6 linked regions of the Homo sapiens genome follow. The protein of the gene in region 6 purifies or fractionates together with the protein of the main gene of each other region. This does not show direct contact. Each region holds a gene or a part of one and is shown on either strand. Other genes may lie near its edges. The genes, in order: PRPF40B, NPHP4, SFXN1, NKAP, ADNP2 and MYEF2.

Region 1 (5,236 bases), on a different chromosome or scaffold from region 6:
ACATTAATGGGGTCTTTTCCCTTCCACTTCTCCTACCTCTAGCCCCAGTGTGTCCTAAGGTCAAAAAGACAAAGGGGGAATTGTCAATGTTATGTACTGAGGGCTTCACAACAGCTCTCCCCAACCCAATGCTCAAGTAAAACCATCCCTCTTCCAAGGTCAGCAAAAGGGGCATTACAGGAAAACTGTGCTGGTGATGCAGCAGTGGCTAGGGGCTGGGGAGTTGGGGGTGCAGGCTGGAAAAGCCAAGCCCAGGGAAAGACATAAAACTTACGAAGGGTGGTGGCATCATGGGGGGCCCCGGTGGGAAGGGGGCAGGCGCTGCTGGGGGCCGGGGACCAGAATCGGGAACCGACTGTTGAGGGAGAGAAAAGTCATAGGACCCAGGATGGGCACAGAGATGGGCTTTTTGCAGAAGGGAAGCAGAAGTGGTGAGGATGAAAAAGGAGCACAAAATTCAGGAGGGTCTTCAAGCCCGATTTCCTGCCCACCCCAAGCCCTTAGCCCTTGGTAGGTTTGCTCTCTCTTGTGCTTTTGCTCTCTCTTGTGCCAGCTCAGAGCCAGCTGGCTGAGCCCCTTGAATGTCATCTTTATTTTGAAAGTTTCCATTTTGTCAAAGCAACAGAAAAGATGAAGGAGGCTTCACTACAGGCACAGACTGGCTCTACCTAAGGCTTCTAATCCATTATCCTGCCTGTGGGCAAGGCTGTGCCTCTCTCAAATAAGTTAGAGGTCTCTTTTATTCCCAAAGTATCTAGGGAGGGAGTCGCCTCTTTTCTAGTTCCCCTAATTATCCCAGTTACAGAGATTCAGTCCAAAGCTCTCTCAACACAAATAGTCGCTAGTCCTTTAAAATGCTTGTCTCCCTAATTCTCATCTCTTCATGACCAGCTTCCTCCCCTAACTGACCTCATCCTTAGCCACCTACTTTCTTTGACATCTTCCACTTCCAATCGCCAACTTCATCTCTTTGGCTTTATCTCCATCCCCTTTTTGGTGTCCATCCCCTCCTCTACAAATCCTGAACTATCTCCCTGTGGATGTAGGCTTTGAACAGCTTAGGTTGCCCTGTCCTACCCCTAATGGCTGTCTGCATCCCATCCTTTAGTTCTCAGCTTAAGTATCACTTATTTTAAGACAACTTCCTGACTGTATTTAAAGTAGCTCCTTCCTATTTCTCTATCTGATCCCCTTTTTAGTTTCCTCATGTACATAATTTTGTAATTATTATGTTTGCCTGGATATGTTTTCCCCAACAAGAGTGTAATAACATTCCATGAAGACAGGGATCATATCTGACTTGTTGGAAGCTGTATTCCTGGTACCTACCAGCATCTGGCACATAATAGGTATTCAGCAAATATTGAACGAACGAAGAACAAACAGAACAAATCTCTATATAGAACCTTCTACTTCTAAAAATTAATTTTATAGGTATAGCCCTACATGGCCAAAATGCTGTATGTTTAAGGTTTTCATTTCAGTATTATTTGTAAAAACAGAAGATTGGAATCAGCCTAAATAGCCACCAGTAAGGAGCTATGAAATTATATATACACATAAAATGCAGTGCTATACAGTTATAAACAAGAATGAAGAAGCTTATTGTCTCGATATGATCTCTAAGATGTATTAACAAGTGGGAAAGAAAGCAAGGTGCAGCAAACTTTTATCATTTGTATAAAAGTCAGAGACAAAAGATGATACACAAGAAATGGTAGAAAGGGACAGAGATAAAGGGGAGACTTTTCCCTGTATGGCTTTTGTATCTTTTGAATACGCAGCCATATGACTATATTGCCCATTCAAAAACAAACAAACTCACTGTAAGTGAACCGAGGCTTGGAGATGCAGCTAAAGGGCCCAGCCCTTCTGCCTCTTTGCCTGAAAGTTAGGGGGTGATAGGGAGGAATCCCGGGGAAAGGTGGTATCTGGCTGAAGAGAAGGTACCTCACTGCTGCCAATTTCCCCTATGTTGAGAATGCTCAGCATTTAAAAACGCCCTTCATGTCTGCCTTTAAAATATCTGTTCCTGGCTGGGCACGGTGGCTCACACCTGTAATCCCAGCACTTTGGGAGGCCAAGGAGGGCAGATCATGAGGTCAGGAGATCGAGGCCATCCTGGCCAACACGGTGAAATCCTGTCTCTACTAAAAATACAAAAACAAAATTAGCCAGGCGTGGTGGCAGGCACCTTTAGTCCCAGCTACTCGGGAGAGGTGGGAGAATGAGGTGAACCCAGGAGGCGGAGTTTGCAGTGAGCCGAGGCGCCACTGCACTCCAACTCCAGCCTGGGCGACAGAGCGAGATTTCGTCTCCAAAAAAAAAAAAAAAAAACTGTTCCTGGCCTGGTGCGGTGGTTCACGCCTGTAATCCCAGCACTTTGGGAGGCCAAGCGGGCAGATCACCTGAGGTAAGGAGTTCGAGACCAGCTTGGCCAACATGGTGAAACCTCTACTAAAAATACAAAAATTAGCCAGGTGTGGTGGCACACGCCTGTAGTCTCAGCTACTGGGGAGGCTGAGGCACGAGAACTGCTTGAACCTGGGAGGCGGAGGTTGCATTGAGCTGAGACTGCACCACTGCACTCCAGCCTGGGTGACAGAGTGAGACACTCTCAAAAAGACAAAACAACAACAACAACAACAAACTGTCCTTCATCTTGTCCTAAGAAGAAAAGGGTATGAGCTAAACCTCTCCAATGTGACTCATCTTTTCTAAGTGCTCAACTGCTTTAGTTCTGTATTCAGACTTGCTCTTGCCCCTGACGCTTTCCTCAGCATGGGAAGTCAGAAACTAATCAATAGTGGAGGAAATACAATTTTCTGTGTCACACTTTCCCATCTCAAGCTGCCTCAGGAGCCTCTCTAACATCTTTGGGTCCTACCAGGCTCCAGGGGAGCCTCAGAAGCGTCTCAGAGACTGGCACCACACCATTCAATTGTCCAAATGGAAACCTATGAGTCACTCTCCACAACTCCCTCTTCCTTGCCAATAAATCACCAAGTCTTGTTAACTTTACCTCCTCAAGATTTCTTGAATCTATCCATTTCTCTCCATTTCCTTTTCCACCACCCATCTTGCCCAAGCCACCATCTTTTTTCATCTAATTGCAGTGGCCTCCCAACTGTTTTCCCCACATCCACTCCAATCAGCAGCTATAACAAGCTCTTCAAAGTGCACCTCAGACTGTTAGCCCCCTGCTTAAAACTCTTCAATGGCTTCCCACTGCTCTTAGGGTAAATAGTAAACCCCCTACCCAGTACTATGAGGGGGTCTGCTACCCAGCTACCTTGCCAATCTCCCCCATGCTGAGCTCCTGGGTCTCAGTTCCAGCCCTACTCACCTTCTCTCAGCTCTCCCACCTCAGGCATCCACCTTTGCCTGAGAAAACTGGGTTGGCCCTGCCAACCCCACACACCTTGCCTACTACACTTCACATCTACCAATCATTTCTTCACGAAAGCTTTTCCCAACTCCCTGAACTAGTCAGAGCCCGCTTTTATATACTTGTACAACACCATGTACCTTCTCCTTCGGCAATTATCCATTAGAATTTTATAGTTATTTGTATAATCCTGATTATATTATTTTTCTATTTGGCATGAATAAAAAACAAATGCTGCCAATTAAATTATAATATCCTGTCAATTTGAAGATGCATCCTGACTTGACAAATGTTCAAATATGAGTCTCAGAATTAATGAAATATAATATCCGTGGCCCCTACTAGACTGAAAACACTGAAGGGCAGGGACTTCATCTGTTTTTGCTCACCTCATATCCAGTTCCCATTGTGTTTTCCTTACCACCATCTATGGGTACAAACTAGGTGCTAATAAGTATGTGTTAACTGAATGACTAAATGGTCTTGGCAAGTCCTACAAAACAGTAGGGGGCCACTGGTAAGTTAGGTCTAGTAGTTATTCAGGGAACATAGAATGTCAGAACTGGAGGAGACTCTGGCAGTCACCCAAGGTATCCCCCTTTTTCAGGGAATAATCTGTCCAAGGAGCCACCACTGGTTAGGGACAGAACTGGGACTGGATCCAATCTGCCCTCTAGCCCTCCTCCCTTAAAAGCAAAGCTCCTACCACATGAAACAGGTCTGTTTGCAATCTAGTATATCCCCTGCAACCTAAGTGGTTAAATCACCAATGATTCAACGTTTTATTGAGAACTTACCGGTTCCCGATTGCCTACCCTACAAAATCTTTCATCTAACAGTCAAAGCCTTGCAACGAAGGCCGCCCCACACTCTTCTTTGCTCATCCTGACTCAATGGCTTCCCTCCTCCTCTCTTTGCACAGAATTGTTAGATTACCCTCAAGTGAAACACATTTCTTTTATTCTACAGTCTCATGCTTTGTTCAAGATGATCCAATATTCACCTCCTTCAGGTTACCCTTATGACTATCCCACACACATACACACACTCCTACCTGTGTCCCTTCAGGATAAATGATGCACTACTTTGCAGAGTGACATGCTACTCTGTGAATGTTTGCTGGGTGTTTCATGTGGGACTGCTTGTCTCCCACTCATGTGGGGATTTCCCTACATTCAGGGATTGAGTTTTCTCCTTTTATACCTCCCCCAAGTGTTTAGTCAGGGCCCTGCACACAAAGTGCTGTGATAAAATGCAGTCTCATCTCTAACCTTATTAGATTTTTGCATACTGGAATATCCTAAAATGCACTTTGAAAACAGTGTATACACGTGTGCATATGTACATCTGTATAAATTCTCTGACATACAGGCTGTGACAGAGAGAGGTAGCTTGGCAGAAGTCTTTGTGGCTTGGAAAAAGGAAATTGGATTGAAATGTTGGCATGAGAAAACCTAATAAAGCTAACTGTATACAGTCATCTTCAACTTGGGATGAAGACCTCTGGCCAGGATTCAGACACTGGCCTATTCTGGACAGTTCCCCACAGAGGACAGAACAATGGAATAAACATAAACTACTACAGAACTTCCAAAGCCCTTCCTTCGCTGAGCTTCCCGTGTTGTGTCCCTGCTTTCCTGAAACACCCCGTCCCTCTCCTACCTGCTGCAGTGCCATAAAACTTTGGGTCTTATTTTATTTCTGGGTGAGAATATGAAGACATTAACTAGTGACAGGGAAGGATATAGAAATGGTTGCTGAAAGAGAAGCAGATCCTGTGTCTTCCCTGGAACAAAAACACATTTGTGGGCTGAGAGATGATGAAGAGACACTTGATCATCTGATCAT
Region 2 (5,236 bases), on a different chromosome or scaffold from region 6:
AGAGGAAAACGGCCTTGCCAAGCCAAATCCTGTAAAAAGGGTTGACAATGGCAAGACTGATCCTTCTCACGCATTCCCACCGGCCACTGGGCCTCACGAGGACAATCCAATCGTGTGGGTGTCCCGTGGGCAGCAGCACAGAAGCACCAGCTTGTCCAGCAGGTTCCCCGCCAGCTGAAGGGCACAGATGGATGTGCCGCCATCAGGGCCTGGGCCTGAGTGTGCCCAAGGCCGTGGTACATCCAGCCACGCACAGAGCTGCCAGAATGCCCGTAGCTCAGCCCCTGCAGTCCTCACTGCCAGGCTGAAAGCGGGCCATGCTGAGCCATGCACAAGGCCACCTGGCTCACAAATAACCCAGGAAATCAGAGTACTTGGGTTTTTAAATTGCTCCACTGTGGGCAGAAAGAAACCCTACCCAGAGTCAAAAGTGCTGACCATGTCATTGAATCATAGATTCTCTTTGCTGATGGGCCACTTTGCATCCGAATACTGCCAAGGCCCAAGGTAATGGGTATGGTGGTATAAGACTCAAACGAGTAAGTGAAAATCAATACAGATGCTCTTTGACCTATGATGGGACTCTATCCTGTTTAAGTTGAAAATGTCATAAGTTCAAATGCATTTAATACCCTTAACCTACTGTACATCAGAGCTTAGCGTGGCCCAGCTTCAACATGGTCAGAACACTTGCATGTTCCTACAACTGGGCAAAGTCATCTAACACAAATCCTATTTTTAAATAAAATGTTGGGTATCTCCTGTAATATATTGAAAACAGCACTGAAAGTGAAAAACAGAATGGCTATATGGGTACCACCATAAAGTAGCAAAATCAAAAATCAAAGCATCGTAAGCCAGGGACCATCCATCTGTTAACTGGAAGCCTCATGTCAGCTAAGAGCAATAACACGCATTTGCTAACAGCACATTTTGTTACCTGCCTAATTACCGGTCCGTCCAGCCACTTGAGGACACACTGGAATGCCGTGGATTCCTTCCAAGGCTGGCGCGCTCTCTGTGGGTGGGGAGGGACAAGCACGTTTTGGGTGAAGATCCTGTGCCAGTCGTTCATCCTGCCCGCCTGAGGGTCCCGTGGGCTTCCCGGATGATCTGTGCCAGTCGTATTCAAATAAAGAGAAGAGCTGTGAGGGCTACAGTGGTCACAGCAATCCTGAAGGCTTCTGCCTCCCACTAAATCCCAGAGGAACCTCCATCCCCCAAACCCACACTCTGCAAACCCCAGAAGAGTGGACTTTGTTGCTGGCTGGCACCCATGCTGCCTCCTCTAGGAAGTACCATTTGCATTTCAAAAAGGAAAAATAAACGTAGATATATTTATTTGTATTTGCTTAGAATTTATGAAAGCTGTACAATAACACACTGTATCTAGGGTGATACACCAGGTACCTGGGGTCAACATGGGATGATTCACTTTTCCTGTGTATCCTTGTCAACTTTGAACTATGCGAATTACCTTTTCAGAAATAAAAATAAAATGGAGAAATAAAATCTACCTCCAGAGAACCCTCCGCCCCACCCCTACCCCCGTGGGCCAGACTCAGGGCACGACTCTCCTGACCTCTGTGGCTGGTTCCGGATGGGGACATGAAGGGATGTTTTATTCAGCTGTGTAAGTTGGATACCACACAAGGACACCAGGGGTGGGTGGCTGCTGAAATACAGTCCTAGCGTTAAGACTGTCTTGTAGGGGACCCAGGGAGCATGAGAGAGGGAATACAGCCCTTGGGCCAAGAGGTGGTCAGCCTGAAACTGCCCGGGGCCACCTTAGGACACACATAAAAACAAGCAGAGAGGAAAAGGTAGGAGTGAGGGCCACTGGGTCCCCATGTCATTATTAGAGACCTCAGTTGGTCACCCCACGACACTTCAGCTACATGAACAAAGTCTCTTGTTGCTAAAGCCATTTGGGGACAGGTTTCAGGTGTTACCAGCTTCTTGGTGGGTCTTGGCCCGTTTTGAGTGTTATCTGATCCTGTCCAGCCAGACCGGGATCTAAATCTTCTCTAGCCAACACAGAATCCAAAGATCTGAACCTCAAGAAGAGGTTGAATTCCGTAAACTAAAATGGCGAGTAAGGAGAAAAAGAAGTGGGTTTGGCCTTCTAAGACAGCAGCTCTCTAAGTACATTCCCCAAACCCAAGGTTCAACAGGATCCTGTCAGGGGCTCTACAAGGTCAAAACTATTTTCATGACACCCAGGTGTTATCTCTTTCACCATGGTGGCATGGTGGGGCAGAGGCAGCAGCAGGGAAAGCCACTGGGGCCTCACTCAACCCAAGGCTGGTTGGGTTGAGTGAGGTCCTCCCAACCTCTCACAGAAAAGAACAAGGCAGCTTCAAGTAAGAACATCCTTGGTGAAGCCGGAAAAACTATTAATCTTATTACTTCTTGACCTTTGAGTACACACGTTCTTAATTTTGTGAGACGAAATGGAAAATACACAACAAGCATTTCTGCTGCAAACTGAAAGGCAACAGTCATCCCCGGGGAAGCCTGGCTGTGACTGGGCTGCATGCTGAACACACCGCTTTTATTATTCAACACCATTTTCACTAAGAAGAATGACTGAGAGACAAACATGGGTACTTGGCAGACATCTTCTCAAACGTGAACAAAGTTAGCATGTCACTTCCGGGAAAACAACTGCAACAAAAATGGAGTTTCCAAGCAAAAATGAGAATTAAGAACATTTGTATCCTCTACCATGAGCCTACTAGCTTCACACTTCTTCAAGACTTTCCTGATGAGAGGGGCAGTGATATAACGTGATCTTCTAAGGTTACACCATTAAATGTGTCAATAGTTGGAAGGTCTGCATGACTCCGTGAACCAATATTTTCTGAACAATGCGTAATGGTACAAAATCCTGCAAGAAGAAAACATCCACCCAAAGTGCAAGACAGACCAAAGGAGTTTAATGTCAGAGCACGAAGAGTTCATTCACATGGTGGAGACTCTGCTTTAGAACAAATCCTTAAGAAACTTCTGCTCGTAGGGTTTCAATGCAGCAGCAAAGAATATCCACAATGACCCAAGAGACTCCTCCCTAACTAGATCGGGATGGATTTCCTTCACATACTTCAACCAAGGCAACACAAGGCAACAGACTGAGTACAGAAGCAAACAGGAGCCTTCAGCTGTCCTCTCTTAAGGAGACTGTAAAGATATTTGCAAGAATGCAAAAGAATCCCACTCTTCTAAATTTTTTTTTGTTTTGGATAATATAGTTGGTTTTTGTAAAAAATGTTTTTATGTTAACATGTCACAGCCTTATTTTTAAATAAATTAATATTTTTAACATTTCTCAGTTTTAACTTCTATGGCAGTAAACATTGGTAGATATAACTCACATAAACAAAAGTTCTTTGGGGTCCTCAATAATCTTTTAAAGGGTAAAGGGATCTGAGACCAAAAAGTTTGAGAAGGGTTGTGCTAATGGTTCACCCCCTGCATGCTCCCGGCATGTGTGGGAACCGAGAGGACATGACCAGGCAGCCTGAGAGGGGCCTTGGCCCAGGGTCCCGCCTCCACCCACAGTGCACCCAGACGCTGCATCCTTGGCCCAGGGTCCCGCCTCCACCCACAGTGCACCCAGACGCTGCATCCTTGGCCCAGCGTCCCGCCTCCACCCACAGTGCACGCAGATGCTGCATGTGGGCCAGGTATTCCTGAGGACCAGACTCAGTCTGGTCCTGTGTGAATCCAGCAGGCACACATGCTGGTTTGTTCCTTTTTGTTCTCTGTGGGCTATTTTTGTCGCTCAACTTCCCTTGTTTTGTGGAGGACCCTGACCCAATTCCATGTATGGGGAGAGCTGCTCCCCGATTCCAGCCAGAGACTGCAGTGATTGCTTCAAGGAGGAACACATGGCCCACACTGAGCCATCAGTCTTCCCCGGGAGACTTGAGCCCAGGATGTCTCTCCTCCAATGCCCACAACTGCCCACACCATGCCAGCCCAGAGCCCCAGGAGCCACCACAGGGAGAGCCGACTTTGGACTTCTGACCGGCCTAACTGGAAAAGAACAAATTTGTGCTACTTTTAAGCAACCAAGTCTGTGGGACTTTCTTACAGGAGCCACAGGAAATCATACAGCTGTCCACGACTTATAAGCAGAAGACACCTGACCAATACCAGCTCAAGGGCCATCTCCCCCAGGAGGGCTTCCCAGGTGCTCCCAGGGTCCAGGCCCCAGGCTCACATGGCCCCTGTGCTTCCCTTGGTCACATCATTCGTCACCTATCTTGTGTTGAATTGCTCGCTGGCCAAGTTCTTGAAGAAAGAAGCCTCATTCCTCCTGTGTTCTTGGTACCGTCACAACTCAGTAAATGGTCACGGAACCAAACAGAAGCTTTAGCAAAGCTACCCTCAAGCTTTTCTTTCCCACTGATGTTTTATAACATTCAGAAATGTATTCACACACAATGCAGGCCGTGATGGCCCCAGGTGGGGATTTCAGAGAGGAAGTCTCTCCTGACGCAGATGCCCATGCTCCTCACCTGCCCCAGATTTCTGACCCGGTGCCTCCTGCCCTCTCCCTGGGTGTCTGCAGGACTCAGTGCCACACTTGGCCCAAGGACACTGCTGAAGGACGTGCATACGCCAGTCGACCCTCACAGGGAGCATGAAGCATGCCGGCCCCCTGCTGTACTAGGAGGGCAGACACTAGGCGGAAGGGCATCCATTCCGAAAGCACCTGCCACCCACACGGAAGTCCTGAGGCTCGGGATGTGGAGGCAGGGCAGTCCTAGTCTGAGGGGCCACGGAGGCCGAGGTGACACCTGAGACTCTGCAGGTGGGAGCCCAAGCGCCCGCAGCAGCTCTCACTGCCATCCCAGCACCTCACAAACCTCTCCGGGTGCCCTTCCACCTGCTCCTTGCTCCTTTCCACCTCTGCTCTGGCCTCTAGGAGTCAAACCAAATGCTCCCTCCTCAGAGCGAGAGCCCCATCCCCCACCTCCGGCTGCTCCCACACAGGGCAGGTGACAGAAGAGCCACCACGCTTCACCAGGGCTGTGCTGTAGTCCTGCGAGACTGTGAGCTCCATGACACCAGGCTGGGTCTTCAGCAAAAGTCTTTTAAGGATGAAATACAAATGCCCTGGAGGAAGTGCAGAGGGGCCTTTGGGGCCAAATCAACAATAAAAGAGAAAATCGAGAAGGCTCCAGGTCTTGAACCCAAGAAAAGGGTACAGTGGGCTCTCCAGGGGAAA
Region 3 (3,500 bases), on a different chromosome or scaffold from region 6:
GATCACCTGAGGTCAGGAGTTTGACACCAGCCTGGCCAACATGGTGAAATCCCATCTCTACTAAAAAATATAAAACTTAGCTGGGCATGGTGGCAGGCGCCTATAATCCCAGCTGCTCGGAAAGCTGAGGCAGAATTGCTTGAACCCGGGAGGCAGAGATTGCAGTGAGTCAAGACAGTGCCACTGCACTCCAGCCTGGGCAACAAGAATGAAACTAAGTCTCAAAAGAAAAGAAAAGAAAATGTGAAACATTCTTAACTTTCTCTTTTGGCTGGCCTGCATCAGTTGAGAGTTTGTGAATACCAGCCTTGATTTCTAGACTTTCTATTGTGTTTCCACTTATCTACATATTCTGATGCCAATACCCACCATTTTAACTTGACAGTCAATTTTAATCTTGGGTAGAGCAACCGTCCCACACGCTATTCTTCTTTTTCTTTTTCTAAGATGCCTTATACTAATTTATTCTCCCAGATAAACCTTAGAATTATTATTATTATTATTATTATTATTATTATTATTGTGATGGAGTTGCACTCTTGTCGCCCAGGCTGGAATGCAATGGCGTGATCTTGGCTCACTGCAACCTCCGCCTCCTGGGTTCAAGCAATGCTCCTGCCCCGGCCTCCTGGGTAACTGGGATTACAGGCACCCGCCACCACATTCAGCTTTTTTTTTTGTATTTTTAGTAGAGATGGGGTTTCACCATGTTGGCCAGGCTGGTCTTGAACTCTTAACCTCAGGTGATGCCCCTGCCTCGGCCTCCCAAAGTGCTGGGATAACAGGCATGAGTCACTGCACCCGGTCAGAATTATTTTATCAGTTTTACAGGTGACCACAGTTGTAATTTGACTGAAATCGTATTAATCTGGAGACAACTGACACCTCTACAATCTCCAGCCTTTCTCCCCAGGCCTACTGCACATTTCTCCATTTACTCAAACTTAACATGATTCCAAATGTTTTCATCATTGACGCAAATTTCTGGGTGCGTTTCTTCCCAAGTACTTTACATTTTTAAAAAATTGTTCTGGCCGGGTGCGATGGCTCATGCCTGTAATCCCAGTACTTTGGGAGACCGAGGCAGGTGGATCATGAAGTCAGGAGATCAAGACCATTCTGGCTAACACTGTGAAATCTCGTCTCTACTAAAAATACAAAAAATCAGCTGGGCGTGGTGGCGGGCGCCTGTAGCCCCAGCTACTCAGGAGGCTGAGGCAGGAGAATGGCGTGAACCCGGGAGGCAGAGCTTGCAGTGAACCAAGATCGCGCCACTGCACTCCAGCCTGGGCGACAGAGCAAGACTCCGCACCCTCCCCGCCCAAAAAAAATTGTTCTTATGAAGTGAATAAAAAACAATGTCTAATTGCTTGTTGCTTTTATACAGGAAACTACCATTGTGTCTATTATAAATAGCCCCCTCATTGTATTTTAATTTGTTCTATGGTTGTTCAGTTGGTTATGGTCTCTTCTTTTTTTTTTTTTTGAGATGGAGTCTTGCTCTGTTGCCAGGCTGGAGTGCAGTTATGCAATGTTGGCTCACTGCAACCTTCACCTCCCAGGTTCAAGCGATTCTCCTGCCTCAGCCTCTGGAGTACCTGCGACTACAGGTGTGCGCCACCACGCCCGGTTAGTTTTTGTGTTTGTAGTAGAGACGGGGTTTCACCATGTTGGCCAGGCTGGTGTTGAACTCCTGACCTCAGGTGATTTGCCTGCCCTGGCCTCCCAAAGTGCTGGGATTACAGGCGTGAGCCACCTCGCCTGGCCGAGTATTCTCATACATATTACATACATTATGGAAAAAAAACAAAGGGCTCATGTCCAAGTTTGGGAAAAATGATTAAGCAGCTTTATTTTCACTCCTGGACTTTTTGGAAACTTCGAACAGTTAATAGAATGTGACATTCTCAAGAGTGGAATGCAAACTTTCTCAAATTTGACTACCAAAATCCTCTCCCTTTTTCTCTCTGCCTCTCTTGATCCCTCTCTCCCTTCCCCCACCCCCCTCTTTTCTTTCTTTAAGTATTCCATAGGATCCCTTTTTTTTTTTTTTTTTGAGATGGAGTGTCACTCTTGTTTCCCAAGCTAGAGTGCAATGGCGCAATCTCGGCTACTGCAACCTCTACCTCCCAGGTTCAAGCAATTCTCCTGCCTCAGCCTCCCGAGTAGCTGGGATTACAGGTGCGTGCCACCATGCCTGGATAATTTTTTGTATTTTTAGTAGAAACGGGGTTTCACCATGTTAGCCAGGCTGGTCTCGAATTCCTGACCTCTGGTGATCCACTTGCCTTGGCCTCTCAAAGTGTTGGGATTATGGGCGTGAGCCACCACGCCCGGCCAGGGTTCCTTTCCTTTAGAGGTCTTTTTGGGAAGTTCAGCTCTAGTGTTCCATTATTTCGTGCATTGCTCACTACTGATGTGGGATATGCATTCTTCATAATTAAAGAAGTACCACCCATTATGCCTAGCTGATTAATTATTTTATGGGAAATAGATATATAATTTTACCTTCTTTTGGGCATCTATCAAGATGTGGCTTTTTTGCTCTGACATATTGATGTGATAAATTACACTAATAAATGTCCTAAATATAAATCACCTTTTCATTCTCGGAATAAATTCTACCAGTTCATGTTTTAACACAAGGTTGGATGCTATGTGTTGGTGTTTTACTTTGGATTTTTGCATTATCAATTTGTAAGACAGGCCACTGTTTCTTTTTGTATTTTTTAAATCATTTATTGTATCAGGGTTGCAATGAATCGGGAAGCATTTCCTTTTTTTCTATGATCTTGTAACATTTTAAAATTAAATCAGCTTTATTGAGGTATAATTTAAATACCATAAAAGTCATCCACTTTAAGTGTCCAATTTGCTAAGTTTTGAAAAAATATACTCAGTGGTGTAACCGCCCCGGAATTGTGGTACAGGATATTTCCATGTCTCCAACAGTTCCCTTGGGCCCCTCTGGAGTTATTTCCTCACTTCCTGCCAACCAATGGATCTGTTTTCTAACACTATATTACCTTTTCAAGAATTTCACACAAATGGAATCATACAGTGAGTAGATACATATTTTGTGTATTTTGTGTCTGACCTCTTTGACTTTGCATAACACTTTTGAGAAGCACCCTGTTGTTTATATGAGTTGGTTAATCTGTTCGATGGATGGATGTACCAGTTATTTATTTATTTATTATTATTATTATTATTATTTTGAGATAGAGTTTTGTTCTTGTTGCCCAGGCTGGAGTGCAATGGCGTGATCTTGGCTCATCGCAACCTTTGCTTCCCGGGTTCAAGCGATTCTCCTGCCTCAGCCTCCCAGGTAGCTGGGATTACAGGCATGTGCCACCATGCCCGGCTAATTTTTTATATTTTTAGTAGAGACATGGTTTCTCCATGTTGTCCAGGCTGGTCTTGAACTCCTGAGCTCAGGCAATCCTCCCGCCTCCGCCTCCCCAAGTGCTGGGATTACAGGCATGAGCCACTGTGCCCGG
Region 4 (4,991 bases), on a different chromosome or scaffold from region 6:
TTATGAAACAATTAAGCTAAAATACTGACTCATTATATTTTTCCTTATCAAAACTCTTGACCATAGTTGACTCCTATTCTTTTGGATGTTATCCTATCCTCAAGCTCATATCAGCTCAGATTGAAATAAAGTATTTACATGGGGATAAGAGTAGACTTCTTAAGACTTTATATTTCAAATAACTATTTTTAAGTAACTTATTAAGAATTTAGGCTGGACGCAGTGGCTCATGCCTGTAATCCCAGCACTTTGGGAGGCCAAGGCGGGCGGATCACCTGGGGTTGGGAGTTCGAGACCAGCCTGACCAACATGGAGAAACCCCATCTCTACTAAAAATACAAAATTAGCCAGGCATGGTGGCACATGCCTGTAATCCCAGCTACTCAGGAGGCTGAGGCAGGAGAACTGCTTGAACTTAGGAGGTGGAGGTTGTGGTGAGCCGAGATCACCCCATTGTACTCCAGCCTGGGCAACAAGAGCGAGATTCCATCTCAAAAAAAACAATTTAAAATATCTAATGTTCACATTTTCAATTCAACAAATCTGTGGGTTAGTTTGCTTTTTGGTTTGTTTGTTGGTTTTAGAGTGGAGGTAGGGACTTAAATCAAAACCCATTATTTCCAGGGTAGATCATATATTATAGTACACAAGTCAGTTTTCAAATTCCAGATTTGCTTTTCGCAGCAATGCCTTCATTTTGTTAACAAAAGTGGCCTCCTATATGTTCCTATCAAGTCCATTTATAACACATTCAACACAGAGGAGTGATAATTTCCCAAAAGTTCAGCTGGGGTAGAGGTCGGGGTGGGGCAGGCATCACATAGAGCTAATAGTAGCACTGTCTCATGGTGTGAGATTGAAGTTTCTCATCTCACTAACACTTTTTGTTCAAGCCACCTCCTCCAATACAGTAGCATTTTATTCATAATTTGGATTTTTTTTTTTTGAGACAGAGTTTCACTCTTCTTGCCCAGGCTGGAGTGCAATGTCACAATCTCGGCTCACTGCAACCTCCGCCTCCTGGATTCAAGCAATTCTCCTGCCTCAGCCTCCCGAGTAGTTGGGATTACAGGCGCCCACCACCACGCCCGGCTAATTTTTGTATTTTTTGGTAGAGACAGGGTTTCACCATGTTGGCCAGGCTGGTCTCGACTCCTGACCTCAGGTGATCCACCCGCCTTGGCCTCCCAAAGTGCTGGGATTACAGGCGTGAGCCACCGTGCCTGGCCTTTTATTTTTTTCTGAGACACAGTCTTGCTTTGTCGCCCAGGCTGGAGTGCAGTGGCACAATCTCGGCTCACTGCAACCTCCACCTCCTAGGTTCAAGCAATTCTCCTGCCTCTTCCTCTCGAGTAGCTGGGACTACAGGTGTGCGCCACCACTCCTGGCTGATTTTGTATTTTCAGTAGGGACAGGGTTTCACCATGTTGGCCAGGCTGGTCTCGAACTCCTGGCCTCAAGTGATCCACCCGCCTCAGCCTCCCAAAGTGCTGGGATTACAGGCGTGAGCAACCGTGCCCAGCCCATAATTTGGATTTTTAAACCAGAAAGTTACTATGGTCAATCCAAAATAACCCAAAGAACTTGCTAAAGTTATATCAATAAGCAGCTTTTTATTGAAGGACTGAAAGAATTAAATAGAAGGCACAGTAGCACTGTAAAGCTTTCTCAGAACATAATAATCTTTTTCTATGTATGTGTGGAACCCAGACTTTCTTTTTTGTTGTTAAAAATGTCTTCTGGACAATCAGAAAATCTTTATTTGTCATCCTTCCCTTTGGTCTTTCTGTAAACCATTTCTCGAAAACTGGCCAGAATCTTGTTCTCTCTCTTTCGTCTCTCTTCTTGGTTAAAGGATGCAAGGGCTCTCTTCTCATCAGCACTGTAGATCTGGTTCTCTTTTCGCAGTCGCACAGCCTCCATTCGGCGATGCCTGGAGAGAATTTTATTTTTGGCTTAATTTCTCAGTAATTATTTTCATAGTACATCATCATTAATCCTTTCTTACCCAGAGTGGTCTATTTAACAGCTGACAAAAATTGAAATGGGTTAAATTTCCAAAAGATCATTTATTAATATTTTAGCTGCCTGACACGTCCTTTTTTTTTGTTTTGTTTTGAGATGGAGTCTTGCTCTGTTGCCTAGGTTGGAATGCAGTGGCACGATCTCGGCTCACTGCAACTTCCACCTCCCTGGCTCAAGCAATTCCCCCATCTCAGCCTCCTGAGTAGCTGAGATAACAGGTCTGGCTAATTTTTGCATTTTTAGTAGAGATGGGGTTTCACCATGTTGGCTAGGCTGATCTCGAACTCCTGACCTCAAGTAATCCGCCTGTCTCAGCCTCCCAAAGTGCTGAGATTACAGGCGTGAGCCACCGTGCCCGGCCCTGATATGTCTTTGATTCATTTCCACTATTCAAATAATGATCTCTGATTTCCTGTCAACATAGTAAATGTTATCCTTTTTTCTTTTTTTTTTTTTTTTAATTTTTTTTTTTTTTTTTTTTGAGACGGAGTCTCGCTCTGTCGCCCAGGCCGGACTGCGGACTGCAGTGGCGCAATCTCGGCTCACTGCAAGCTCCGCTTCCCGGGTTCACGCCATTCTCCTGCCTCAGCCTCCCCAGTAGCTGGGACTACAGGCGCCCGCCACCGCGCCCGGCTAATTTTTTGTATTTTTAGTAGAGACGGGGTTTCACCTTGTTAGCCAGGATGGTCTCGATCTCCTGACCTCATGATCCACCCACCTCGGCCTCCCAAAGTGCTGGGATTACAGGCGTGAGCCACCGCGCCTGGCCTATCCTTTTTTCTTTTCTCCTTTTTGTGAGTCTTAAAGTCTGGCTCTGTCACCAAGGCTGGAGTGCAGTGGCACAATCTTGGCTCACTGCGACCTCTGCCTCCTGGGCTCAAGTGATTCCCCTGCCTCAGCCTCCCGAGTAGCCGGGAGTACAGGTGTGTGCCACCACGCCCGACTAATTTTTGTATTTTTAGTAGAGATGGGGTTTCGCCATGTTGGCCATGCTGGTTTCGAACTCCTGACCTCAGGTGATCCACCTGCCTTGGCCTCCCAAAGTGCTGGGATTACAGGTGTGAGCCACCATGCCTGGCCGCTATCATTAATTTCAAATACTAAGGGTATACGTCTAATTTGTTTCCAGTAAAACAATCAGAAATGGGCAAATTATTAAACTTCCTAGGTGACATATCCATTTGCCTTTGTGGAATTGGAAGTAGGATAGATAAAACATTTAACTAGTCATTAATCAGATGGAACTTCCTTCAAGGTTCTACTTTACCATAAAACCAAAAGAACCAAGTCTAGGCTGGGCATGGTGGCTCACGCCTGTAATCTCAGCACTTTTGGAGGCTGAGGCAGGCAGGTCACCTGAGGTCAGGAGTTTAAGACCAGCCTGGCCAACGTGGTGAAACCTCGTCTCTGCTAAAAATACAAAAATTAGCTGGGTGTGGTGGTGGGCACCCGTAATCCCAGCTACTTGGGAGGCTGAGGCAGGAGAATCATTTGAACCCAGGAGGTGGAGGTTGCAGTGAGCTGAGATTGCGCCACTGTACTCCAGCCTGGGAGACAAGAGTGAAACTAGGTCTCAAAAAAAAAAAAAAAAAAAAAAGAACCAAGTCTAAATCTGTAATTGAACAGCAGTTTTTATCAGTGGATTTAACTTCCAAGTCTCCCTCTGTCACCCAGGCTGGAGTGCAGTGGCATAATCTCGGCTTATTGCAACCTCCGCCTCCCAGGTTCAACCGATTCTCCTGCCTCAGCCTCCTATTTCATGTACTGAATAGTTCTTTCTTTCCCCATTGATCTGACATGCTATCTCTTTCATACACTGAAGTTCCATACGTGTATGGTTATCTTTGGGCTCTGAATTTTATTTTATTTTTTTTTGAGATAGTGTTTTGCTCTTGTTGCCCAGACTAGAGTACAATGGCGAGGTCTCAGCTCACTACAACCTCCACCTCATGGGTTCAAGCGATTCTCCTGCCTCAGCCTCCCAAGTAGCTGGGACTACAGGCACTAGCCACCACGCCCAGCTAATTTTTGTATTTTTGGTAGAGATGGGGTTTCACCATGTTGGCCAGGCTGGTCTTGAACTCCTGACCTCAGGTGATCCACCCGCCTCAGCCTCCCAAAGTGCTGGGATTACAGGCATGAGCCACCACGCCCGGCCTGAATTTTATTCCACTGAACAATTCAGTTGTTCTCCTATGCTTTCTAAAGTGCTGTAAGCTTCATAATAAGTCCTCCTATTTGTAGGGGAAATCTTACCTTCCTGCTCTTCTTTTTCAGGAGTGACTTGGCTATTCTTGTCCTTTTAGTCTAGTATATAAATTTTAGAACTGGCTTATTAAGTTTCATGAAAAACTGTGTTCTGATTTTGATTGGGACTGTATTGAATATAAAGATCAATTTGGGAAGAAATGACAACTTTACAATATTGCCTTCCTATCCGTGAACCTGGTATCTCTCCAGCTATTTAAGTTTTCTTTAATCTTACCTTCTTGCTCTTCTTCTTCAGAAGTGACCTGGCTATTCTTGTCCTTTTAGTGTAATATATAAATTTTAGAACCAGCTTAATAAGTCTCATAAACAACTGTGTTGTGATTTTGATTGGAACTATATTGAAGATATGGACTCTTAATGTCTTACATTTTTCCCCATAGAACCTTGGGCATCTTTTGTTAAGATTTATTCTTAAGTCTCTCATATTCTGACACTGTTATAAACGTTCAAGGTTCTAGGTTTCTGTTGTTAGTAAATAGAAATGCAGTTCATTTTTATTGGAACTGTATTGAATACACAATCTCTTAATAATGTTTTATAGTTTTCCTCACAGAGCCCTGGGCATCTTTTGTTAAGATTTATTCTGAAGTCCTTCATATTCTCTGATACTATTACAAATGTTTTCTTCTTATTTAGTTACATTTTCTAGTTGTCTGTTGCTGGTAAATAGAAATGCAATGGATTTTTGTGTACTA
Region 5 (5,236 bases), on a different chromosome or scaffold from region 6:
ACCATCGTGAATTCTTAACAATCTATCTTTGAATTTGTGTTTTATATTATAAAAGTGAACTCTGATGGGACATGGAGCATATGCCAAGGGCTCGGAGCCTCAGCTCACACATGGTCTGCCTCCTTTACCCTTTCCAGGGCCAGGTCTGATACTGCTCTCTGCCTTGCCCTCACCCCAAAGCCCACTTGGCCTCAGCCTTCCTCCCAGTCCCCACCCCTATAACCACTCTCTCACTCACATCTTCCACCTGGGACTGTACCAAGTTGTCAAGAGGTCCACATTCCACTGTAGTCCCAAGTTGGGGGCTGGCACAGATTGGGGGTTGGGGGGGAGGTGGTTGAATGCACTTGCTGTGGCATCTCAGTGTGCAGCAAGGTGGCAACCATTCCTGTCCTGCACTGGCAGCACCAAGGTATGTTTGGCAGGTAACTTGACAAGGGTCCCTCGCCCATCCCAGATCCAATGTTAATTTCTGATCAGATGTTAATTTTTATAAAAAACAACTCCTAAAGAGTTTCTATGTGCAGCAGGGTTTAGATATAGTTTAGAAAATATTAGATTCGTGGAAGAGTCTACCTTTCCTAGGGCTTACTTTTCTCAGCCAGGCTACTGACAAGAACAGCCTCCTATTGGAGGTGTTAACTCTTGCTAAGATTGAAGTCACATGTGCTGTGTAAATCTTACAAGAAGGCAGAGCGACATACCACTCTGAAATCTGAAATACAGAGCAAGGCAGCAGTGAGGACGATGGACAGGTAGTTTCCTTGGTTCTTTCTCTCTACAGGGTTGGTTCTCCAGTCAGCTTGGATTTTTTTTTTTTTTTTTTTTGAGACGGAGTCTGTCACTCTGTCACCCAGGCTGGAATGCAGTGGCGCCATCTCAGCTCACTGCAAGCTCCGCCTCCTGGGTACATGCCATTCTCCTGCCTAAGCCCCCCAAGAGGCTTCCAATAAATCTCCTTTTGTGTAAATTGGTCAGATTGGTTTCTGCTGCTTGAAAACAAAGAACTCTAATTGCTGTGGTGGATTAAGAATAAACGCACTTCACATGGAAAAAGGTTCTCACTATGCGGTTCAGTGAAAAAGAAACAACAGCTGGTGCAGTAGCTTATACAATTTGATTATATCCTTTTAAGAAAAAAAATGTGAATATATCCCGTTTTTAAAAATCTATAGATATATAACAACGTTAATTCTGGATATTTCAGGGTAATGGTTTACGCGTGAGTCTTACTGTCTTGTTTCTGTGTCTGTTTTCTCATTTTCCTATAAAAAACTTCTGTATTACTTGAATTTTCAAAAATTTCATTATAGGCCCAATTACAAATAAAATTTTCTCCCCAAAATAGTTTTACTAATTCAACAGTTAATCTAATTAACAGTTTAAGCCATTCAAATCTCTTAATTTTCCCTTGTGAAGTACCGTATCTCTGCATCAGTAAAGTCTTGGGAAAAAAAAGTAAACAGCCGTGAAGAACTTCAGAAGAGTAAACACATTCTCAGGCTAAGGAAGCAAAAGTTCACGAGCAATGTTCAGTTCCAGTCAAGTCAAAAACAAAGGACTCTAGGATGAAAAACTTTTGTTGTTACTGACATGTTACTTAAAAATAAAACAAATTTCCTAACAGAATTCCACCTTAAAAGATTGAATTGACCTCAAAAGGAGACTAAAGAGACATGACAACCAAATACATACCTGATCCTAGACTACATTTATTAATGAAGGGGAAAGCAAGGCTATAAATGATTAGACGAGACAAAAATGTCATTACCAATGACTACAAGGATATATAAGAACTTTTTTTTTTTTTGAGACAGAGTCTCACTCACTCTGTCACCCAGGCTGGAGTGCAGTGGTGCTATCTCGGCTCACTGCAACTTCTGCCACCCAGGTTCAAGCAATTCTTGTGTCTCAGCCTCCTGAGTAGCTGCAACTACAGGCGCCCGCCACCACACCCAGCTAATTTATGTATTTTCAGTAGAGACAGGGTTTCACCATGTTGTTGGCCAGGCTGGTCTCGAACTCCTGACCTCAAATGATCCATCCACCTCAGCCTCCCAAAGTGCTGAGATTACAGGCGTGAGCCACCATGCCCGGCCAGGATATACAACAACTTTTATTTAACATTGTTTAAAACTATATATGCCAACTATGTATTCTCAATGTTATAAGGACAGACAAAATTTTAGGAAAACTTTTCTGAGATCACATATACAACTACACAAATCAGGATTAAAAAAAACCCTATCATTTCATTTATGCATGCCCATTTGTTGATTGCTCTAACAATACTGGGAAATTAAGTTAGTTTTCTTTTGCTAAAATAACAAATCACATTTCCCTCAAACATCAAAAACAATTTTTTAGTAACTAATGACTAGAAAAATCCCCTCCTTAAAGTAGCTTAAAAACCTGAACAGCTTAAATAGCTCACTTTATGTCATAAAGACATAAATAAGTACTAATGAGGCTTTCACACAGCCATCTGAAGTATAACAGCAATTTCCATTTTGAGGAATCTTACCCACTCTTCAAAAACCCGAGTTCAAATCTCACCTCCAGATTCCAGTTGGCTACTTACGTCCTCTTACCTTCAGTAACTCCTTGCAGCTGTCAAGCCCAATATCCACAAGAATACCTTTCACCTTTTTTCGCACCTTTCTGATGTTGTCAAGATTTTCCACAGGAATTTGAAACATTTTTGAAATTTTCCTTAAAAGGAAAGAAAACAAAACTGTAATAAGTACATGTATATAATACACAAAAATACATTTTTTGACAGGGTTGGTAAAACACTAGGAATAGAGTATAATTTTCAACAAATTGTTGTAGAACGAGTGAACATTCATATGCAAATGAATGAGGTTGACCTCTTCCTTACACCATATACAAAAATTAACTCAAAAGTGGATCACACACCTGTATGTAAGACCTAAAACTATAAAACTCTTATAAGAAAACGTAAGCATAAACATTGATGACCTTAGATTCGGCAAGGAATTCCTAGATAGGACACCAAAAAGCACCAGTAATGAAAGAAAAAATAGGTATGGACTTCACCAAAATTAAAAATTTTTATGCTTCAAAGGACACCATCAAAAAAGCAAAAAACCCACAAAACGGGAGAAAATATTTGCAAACCATTATTCCTTTCTAATAAGGAACTTATATGCAGAATACAGATAACTCTTGTATCTCAATAATTAAAACACAGATAACCCAGTTTACAAATGGGCAAAGGATCATAGACACTTCTCCAAAGAAAAATGTCCACTAAGGTACATGAAAAGATGCTCAGGCAGGGAACAGTGGCTCACGCCTGTAATTCCAGCAGCTCAGGAGGCTGAGGTACACAGATCAGGCAGACTGTTTGAGCTCAGGAGTTGAAGACCAGCCAGGGCAACATGGTGAAACCCTGCCTCTACAAAAAATACAAAAATTAGCCAGGCATCCTGGTGCGCACCTGTAGTCCCAGCTATCCAGGAGGCTGAGGTGAGGGGATCACCCGAGCCCAGGAGGTCAAGGCTGCAGTGAGTCTGATCACGCCACTATATTCCAGCCTGAGCAACAGAGTGAGACCCTATCTTAAAACAAAACAAAAAAAAATGCTCAACATCATTAGCCATTTGGAGAAATGCAAATTAAAACCACAAAGAGATACTGTGCCCACCAGGATATCTATAAAGAAAAAAAAAAGGAAACGTGTTGGCAAGGACGTGGAGAAATTGGAACTCTCATACATTCCTAATAGTAATGTATACCAGTGCAGCCAGTCTTCATGTGTGCCTGAAAACAGTCTGGCTGTCCCACAAAAGATTAAAAATATAGGTAACATATGAACCAGCAATTCCACTCAAGAGAAAAGCATACATCCACCCAAAAACTTATATAAGGATGTTCATGACAACACTATTCAGTCACCAAAATGTGTAAACAAACCAAATGCCCCTGCATTGGGGCATTTGATAAATAAACTGATGACTGGATAAATAAAATATGACATATCCATACAATAGATTATTTGGCCATAAAAGAAATGAAATACATACATGCTACAATATGGACAAACTTTGGAAATATGCTAAGTAAAAGAAGCCAGACACAAGGACCACATATTGTATGATTCTATTTATGTGAAGTGTCCAGAACAGGCAAATCCATAGAAAGCACAACAGTGGGCCGAGTGCAGTGGCTCACACCTGTAATCCCAGCACTTTGGGAGGCCAAGGTGGGTGGATCACCTGAGGTCAGGAGTTCAAGACCAGCCTGGCCAATATGGTGAAGCCCCATCTCTACTAAAAATACAAAAAATTAGCTGGGCACCTGTAATCTCGGCTACTCGGGAGGCTGAGGCAAGAGAATTGCTTGACCCTGGGAGACAGAGGTTGCAGTGAGCCGAGGTCGCGCCACTGCACTCCACCCTGACCAGTAAGAGCAAAACTCCGTCCCCAGAAAAAAAAAGCACAACAGTGGCTGCCAGGGCTGGGAGAACTGGGAAGTGATGGAAGCAGGGCTTCTTCGTTCTGAACTCAACTGTGGTGATGTATACGCAATGTGAATGAGCCCACAGCCATTCACTGTACACTTCAAACTGGTGAATTGTATGGTACATAAATTATATCTCAAGCTGTTTAAAACAATATCTAAAAAGGCACAAAATTAAAATAAACCCTGTAGTACTTGACCAGACTAGGGGTTACTGAAGTGAACTCATTGTTTTCAACACACAGATAGAAGAATAGAGATAGTTTGAGAGTGTGTGTCCACATACACACATACATTCCATAGCTCTGCCCACTGAGAGTGCCTGGATGCAGTTATACACCCCAGTAGCAGTGGGCACAACTAGGGCTCAAACCTGAATTCCTAAATACCGCTTTCCTTTAAAAAGAACCCTAGGAAAAATGGCTGGAGCATGGTAAAGACAAGATGAGCCTAGAACATCCTGTGCCGGAATATAAAGCAGTTGCTCAATGAGGCATGTCAACAGAACACAGAAGTAACCAGCTTGAAAGGGCTCCCATAGGCCAGATACGAGACAATGTGGGCATATATCAAGTAACAGATACAACCTGTGGCAAAGTGAATTTTCCAAACACACAATACCTTCCAACCCACATGCTCTTACAATACGGCCCTAACACTCCTCCCAAAAGTGGCAGCATCTAATGCCCCCTCCTGACCTTTGGGCAGAACTTTGTGGCTGCCTTGACCAATCAAGTATGGAGGAAATAAT
Region 6 (5,236 bases):
ACCTTTATTTGAGCTTGCTTCCAAATTATTCTAGTCCTGTTTGAGTCTGGGGTTTATTATTAAAAAAGTTATTAACAGGAATGTATAGAATTAGCAGAGAAAATTTTGACTGTTGTGGTTTGTGTCAGCCAATTATTGGTGGTTTTTATGCATAAGCCAGGGCCAGTGCTTCAGAAATATATTGGTATCTTAATTTTCTTTAAATTATAATAATCAGAATGATTATTTTGAGGATTAAATTAGGTTGGTGCAAAAGTAAATGCAGTTTTTGCCATTAAAAAAAGCTTTGAATTAAAATAATGGCAAAAACTGCATTTACTTTTGCACCAACCTGACAATTTTCTGTTTTATGTTTTCTGTTTCTCTTCAAAGGACATGTACTACAGATTCTTAGTGTCTTTTTCTTTTATTGGAAAAAAAAGTTTATTGGATGCTAAATATCATCCAATAAACTTCCATATAATATTGGATGCTAAATATCATGTTATTGTGTTCTTTTAAGTTTCAGCACATTGTAGATCCTCAGTAATATTTCAGAGACCCTGGAGTTATATAATCCAAGTTGAAAGAGGATGCCGCCATTTTTAACTTTTTTAAGAGAAAAAAAAAAGGCTAAATTTGGCCTAGCTAAATGATGAGGGATTTATTCAGTTGACTTTTTTGAATTAATGTCACTTTGGCAGTCCCTTTCCTGGGATATCTAATTTATAGAGGGGTGGATGGAATGAATGCTTAGAACTGCTACTGAGGAAAGTCTAAGGAAGGTGTATTTCCAATGTTCCTTAACAGACTTTAGAGTTACATTTTTTTCATTTAATTAAATGCAGAATAGTAGCAGTTATAAACTGCTATTGTAGGCCCTCCAAAAGCAATAGCAGTCAGTAACCAGCAGGCTGACAGCAAGGGGAAAAGAAGAGTAAAAGTCATGTTATATAGTAGGTGGTTTGTTTTATATAAATTTTATTTTATATATGTTTTATGTATGTATGCATGTATTGTATGTGTATATATTTCTGTCATATATATGTATATAAAAGACAGATCAACACAGCAATACATCTTGTTAATGTTATAAGCACAAACAACCGAAATAGCTTACTATACTAGTTGAAGAAATATCTTCTCTTCTGAGTTATCTTTCTTCCCCATAGGTAGCCACTGTCCTAAATTTCGTATTTTTACCTCTTTTTGAATCCTCAGGCCTAAAGAATTTATTTATTAACTTATATGTTTTGAAGCATTCTTTGATACATTTTTTTTTTCTTTTGTAATCCTTTTTATTCCTTCATAGTGAAGAAATATGTTGCAAGCCAGAATGGTTTTATTATTTTACCTTTTCACCTTTTATTCTCCAGCCATCCTAGAGAATTTATTAAAATCACTTGACTTTCTTTTTATTAGTACTGTATTCCCAGACTGAGGCCAGCAAAGTAGATTTGATGGTTACCTTTACACTTCATCTTAGCCTAAAGATAGAGAAGTGATGATGGGGTGATTACCTTTAACATAATCATTTGGCATTGCAGATGATAGTCTATCCATGTGTTTATGTGGTTTTTGTTTATTTATTTTTGTTTTTTAGTATTCCACCTAGTGGGATGAGTGAGAAGTACATTTATGTTTGTGTGTGTGTGTGTGTGTGTGTGTGTGTGTGTATGTTTGGTTTTGTTTAAAGGTAGGGTGTTTCTCTTAAAAAATTAATGAACCTAACAAAAAAACAATGTTTAATATCATTTCTCACTTGGACATTTAGCCCTCCTTTATCTCTCCTCTCCTCCATCTCAGATTATAATCATTGTTGAAGAAGGTAAGAGTTTAGAAGGTGGGTAACTGTATTTTGTTCAGGAATAAAATTTACAGATTACAGTCGGCCATCCTATCCTCTACCCCAGTATTTGGGTTTTATAACAGTCTGTTCCAGTATTGAAAAGCTTTGAATTAGTCTGAATTTGGCATTCCATTGGGCATCCAATAGTGAGAAATGACCATTCCTACATTTTGGAAAGAAAAGTTGCAGTGAGTACTTCGCTCTTCTTTGAGTTACATGTATGTATGCATGTACCCTAGTGTGAGAGCAAAATTAAACTAATTTCAAGTTCTTAAGTGGCTTTAGTGATTGGAAAAAAAAATTAACTGACATCTCTGGAGGCTGAAATATTTTGTTTATCCACAGGTTTTTATGGGACTCAATTCTCTGGATGAGAAAAAAGCTCACTCTTCAAGAGGGTCAATAATTTGAGCCAGACAGGATAGCTACTGTAGAATTTAAATTGTTATTTTAATTTTGTAGAATTAGTGATGTATTTAGTGGAATTTAACATTCAATGTGTGTTATAGGATCCTGATGGAGAAAATGCTCGTAGGGCATTGCAGCGAACAGGAGGATCATTTCCAGGAGGACACGTCCCTGATATGGGATCAGGGTTGATGAATTTACCACCTTCCATACTCAATAATCCAAACATTCCTCCTGAAGTCATCAGTAATTTGCAGGCCGGTAGACTTGGTTCCACAATTTTTGTTGCCAATGTAAGTTCAAGCTTTAGTCTAAAATTTGTCATTCAGATAGATAGCTAATTTGATTAAATGAATGAGTTATAGGTTTATAGAACATTTTGCTTATTTTTAACTAAAGTAAGTGAAATAGTAATTATTGTAAACTCAAAATCAATTGACGTATATACATATATATACACACACACACACACGCACAAGGTTAGAGTTTAAATACAACTATTTGGATTTTTTAAACATGGAACTGTGCAGTTTATACACATTCAAGCAGTTCTTGAAATTATATGTGTTTTGGTTTATATTGGTAAATGGATTTCTTTTTTTAGTCTTGATATTTGTGAATATGCATGCCATAGTTGGTTTGTTATTTGTTCTAAGCATCTGAAAGTCAGTGAAAACAATACTTTTCAAAATCTGGATTTCTCTTGGTAAAAATAGATATGCAAGTTTCAAATGTACAAAACAGGTTTGAGCAGTTGAGAGATGATTTTGGAAATTAAAAAAAATAAGGATAAGGAACAATGTAGACGTAGCTTAAATGATTTTAAGCAACTGAAGATGTTTTAAAATTTGAACATTATCAATATATTGTTGAACTAGAATTATGGTTCTTTATGGTTTTAAGAGTTTAGAAAAGATTTTTTGTATTTACAGATGGGGAGATGGATTTATTAGGTATGTAACTTTATACAATTTTATATTAAGCTTGACTTCAAAGTTGGTTGGAAGAAGCTAAAGGAAGTGTTCAGCATAGCTGGAACTGTGAAGCGGGCAGATATTAAAGAAGACAAAGATGGCAAGAGCAGAGGAATGGGCACTGTCACTTTTGAGCAAGCAATTGAAGCAGTTCAAGCAATTTGTATCCTGATTTACATTTCAGCATTGTTTATGAGGTTGAAGAAGCATAATACCACCTTTGTTTTGGCGGGGGGTAATTGAATTTAAGGTTGCCTGGCTTAGAGATGTGTGTTAGACTTTAGTCTCCAGCAAATAAAACCCTTAGTAGGTCCAAGTATTAAAGTCACTCTTAAAACTTGAATTGGCCATATTGTACAGGGCTGGTATGAAGTTTTTTCTTTTCTTTCTTCCTACCACAATTAATTGTATACATGGATTTAACAATTGTGTAATCTATTGTATATTAATGCAGTTACTTTAAGCGAAGCCTTACGAGTTTACTTTTTTCAATGGTTGAATTAAAAATACATCTTATTGATGAAATAAAACCGTAAAGCAAAGAATTGAATATTTTTTTGAGTATATGAAAGTGGCTAATATCAATAAGTATTAAAGATGTTAATTAAAATATCAGAGAGTTGGACTCTAAGATTATTAAAAATTAGTTTGTGTTCTGTTATAATTTTATAGTTATCTTAACTGACTTTCCTTGACTGAACCAACAGCTATGTTCAATGGGCAGTTTTTATTTGATAGACCTATGCATGTGAAAATGGTGAGTTCCTGTATATCACTTCAACCTCCAACCTCTTCAGATCTTTTATTGGCTCTCTTCTACATTACAGTTCTTTGTGGTAATATGTTAACCATATTATAAACTTTCTTGCAATTAGGATGACAAGTCTGTTCCTCATGAAGAGTACCGTTCACATGATGGTAAAACACCACAATTACCACGTAAGTAAAAGCTATTATGAGAAACAACATAGGCTTTTTTTGGTTTGTTTTATTATGTGCTAAGCAACACTTTGTTTTTGTGCCTACATCCTAGTTTCTCACAATTTGGGATTAGTTTGGAGTTATGAAGATAGTTTGGCGCTATTGATTAGGAAGACTGAGAAGATAAGTGTTACGTGCCATTTTTTTTTTCTCTTTGGTAACTTTTCCTGACTAATCAGCAATACATTCTAAAATGTTTGGTAAATTTATACACTTGAAGGAAAAAAAGTCCTCTGTAATTTCACCATCTGTGGGTAACCTCATTATAACATTTTTGTGTATTTTCTTCTAGCCTGCTATGTATATTTTTTACATAGTTGGGAACAAAAATAATTTTGAATTATTTTTTGTTTAACATTAGAGTATAAGCATTTTTTCATGTTGAAGATTCTTTTCAAATATTTTTATTGGTAGTATAATAGTCTATCATATAGATGTTCCATAACTATTTCACTGTTCTGTATTTTAGGTGTTTTAACTTTTCTTTTGAGTAACCACAGAGTAACACATGCCTTTTTGTTCACAAATCTTTGTAATGTTTTTGAGTACTTCCTTCAGACAGATATTCTGAAGTAGATTTACAGTTCTCATGGGTTAGTATTATCAAATTGTTTTCCAAAATGACTATAACAGTGTAATATACTTATTGTATTATGTGTCTCAGTGCCTCTGTGTCTCAGTGCCTCCTTTGAAAAGTGGGGAGAATAATATTGTCTACGTCATGGGGTTGACATGAGTATTACATGAATTAATATATGTAAAGCACTTAGAATCATTTTGGCATAATGTAAACACTCAATAAATATTAGCTATTGTTTTTACTATTTCACTGCATCTTCTCTGGTTTTTAAAGTATTCTTATAAGAAATCTTAAATATACAGACAAAAGTAAAATTACTCATATAGTTATCATATGCCATATTTGTTGTAGATTTTTTTCTTTAAAATAAATAAAATTTTATGGTAAAATGGAGCTTCCCCATCTCCCTTGCCCATCTTTCAACTTATGCCTTATCCAGAGGAAACAACTTATGGATAGAGTATT

The links.
Region 1: the proteins of MYEF2 (region 6) and PRPF40B purify together in Homo sapiens (affinity purification with mass spectrometry; one large-scale study listed by BioGRID and IntAct). This does not show direct contact.
Region 2: the proteins of MYEF2 (region 6) and NPHP4 purify together in Homo sapiens (co-immunoprecipitation; one large-scale study listed by IntAct). This does not show direct contact.
Region 3: the proteins of MYEF2 (region 6) and SFXN1 purify together in Homo sapiens (affinity purification with mass spectrometry; one large-scale study listed by BioGRID and IntAct). This does not show direct contact.
Region 4: the proteins of MYEF2 (region 6) and NKAP purify together in Homo sapiens (affinity purification with mass spectrometry; one large-scale study listed by BioGRID and IntAct). This does not show direct contact.
Region 5: the proteins of MYEF2 (region 6) and ADNP2 purify together in Homo sapiens (affinity purification with mass spectrometry; one large-scale study listed by BioGRID and IntAct). This does not show direct contact.

Annotation. Positions count from the first base shown.
Region 1 is NC_000012.12:49,625,664-49,630,899, reverse strand, and holds part of PRPF40B (pre-mRNA-processing factor 40 homolog B), read right to left. Parts: intron 356-5,236; coding exon 275-355; intron 1-274. UniProt on the Homo sapiens protein: May be involved in pre-mRNA splicing.
Region 2 is NC_000001.11:5,985,215-5,990,450, forward strand, and holds part of NPHP4 (nephrocystin-4), read right to left. Parts: exon of another isoform or gene 1,583-5,236; intron 1,478-1,582; exon of another isoform or gene 1,411-1,477; intron 1,114-1,410; 5' UTR 1,076-1,113; coding exon 941-1,075; intron 1-940. UniProt on the Homo sapiens protein: Involved in the organization of apical junctions; the function is proposed to implicate a NPHP1-4-8 module. Does not seem to be strictly required for ciliogenesis. Required for building functional cilia.
Region 3 is NC_000005.10:175,502,560-175,506,059, reverse strand, and holds part of SFXN1 (sideroflexin-1), read right to left. Parts: intron 1-3,500. UniProt on the Homo sapiens protein: Amino acid transporter importing serine, an essential substrate of the mitochondrial branch of the one-carbon pathway, into mitochondria.
Region 4 is NC_000023.11:119,923,462-119,928,452, forward strand, and holds part of NKAP (NF-kappa-B-activating protein), read right to left. Parts: intron 1,934-4,991; coding exon 1,759-1,933; 3' UTR 1-1,758. UniProt on the Homo sapiens protein: Acts as a transcriptional repressor. Plays a role as a transcriptional corepressor of the Notch-mediated signaling required for T-cell development. Also involved in the TNF and IL-1 induced NF-kappa-B activation.
Region 5 is NC_000018.10:80,115,006-80,120,241, reverse strand, and holds part of ADNP2 (activity-dependent neuroprotector homeobox protein 2), read right to left. Parts: intron 2,713-5,236; 5' UTR 2,700-2,712; coding exon 2,592-2,699; intron 2,576-2,591; exon of another isoform or gene 2,557-2,575; intron 1-2,556. UniProt on the Homo sapiens protein: May be involved in transcriptional regulation. May play a role in neuronal function; perhaps involved in protection of brain tissues from oxidative stress. May be involved in erythroid differentiation.
Region 6 is NC_000015.10:48,156,906-48,162,141, reverse strand, and holds part of MYEF2 (myelin expression factor 2), read left to right. Parts: intron 1-2,337; coding exon 2,338-2,529; intron 2,530-3,219; coding exon 3,220-3,373; intron 3,374-3,917; coding exon 3,918-3,967; intron 3,968-4,085; coding exon 4,086-4,149; intron 4,150-4,243; coding exon of another isoform or gene 4,244-4,362; exon of another isoform or gene 4,363-5,015; intron 5,016-5,236. UniProt on the Homo sapiens protein: Transcriptional repressor of the myelin basic protein gene (MBP). Binds to the proximal MB1 element 5'-TTGTCC-3' of the MBP promoter. Its binding to MB1 and function are inhibited by PURA.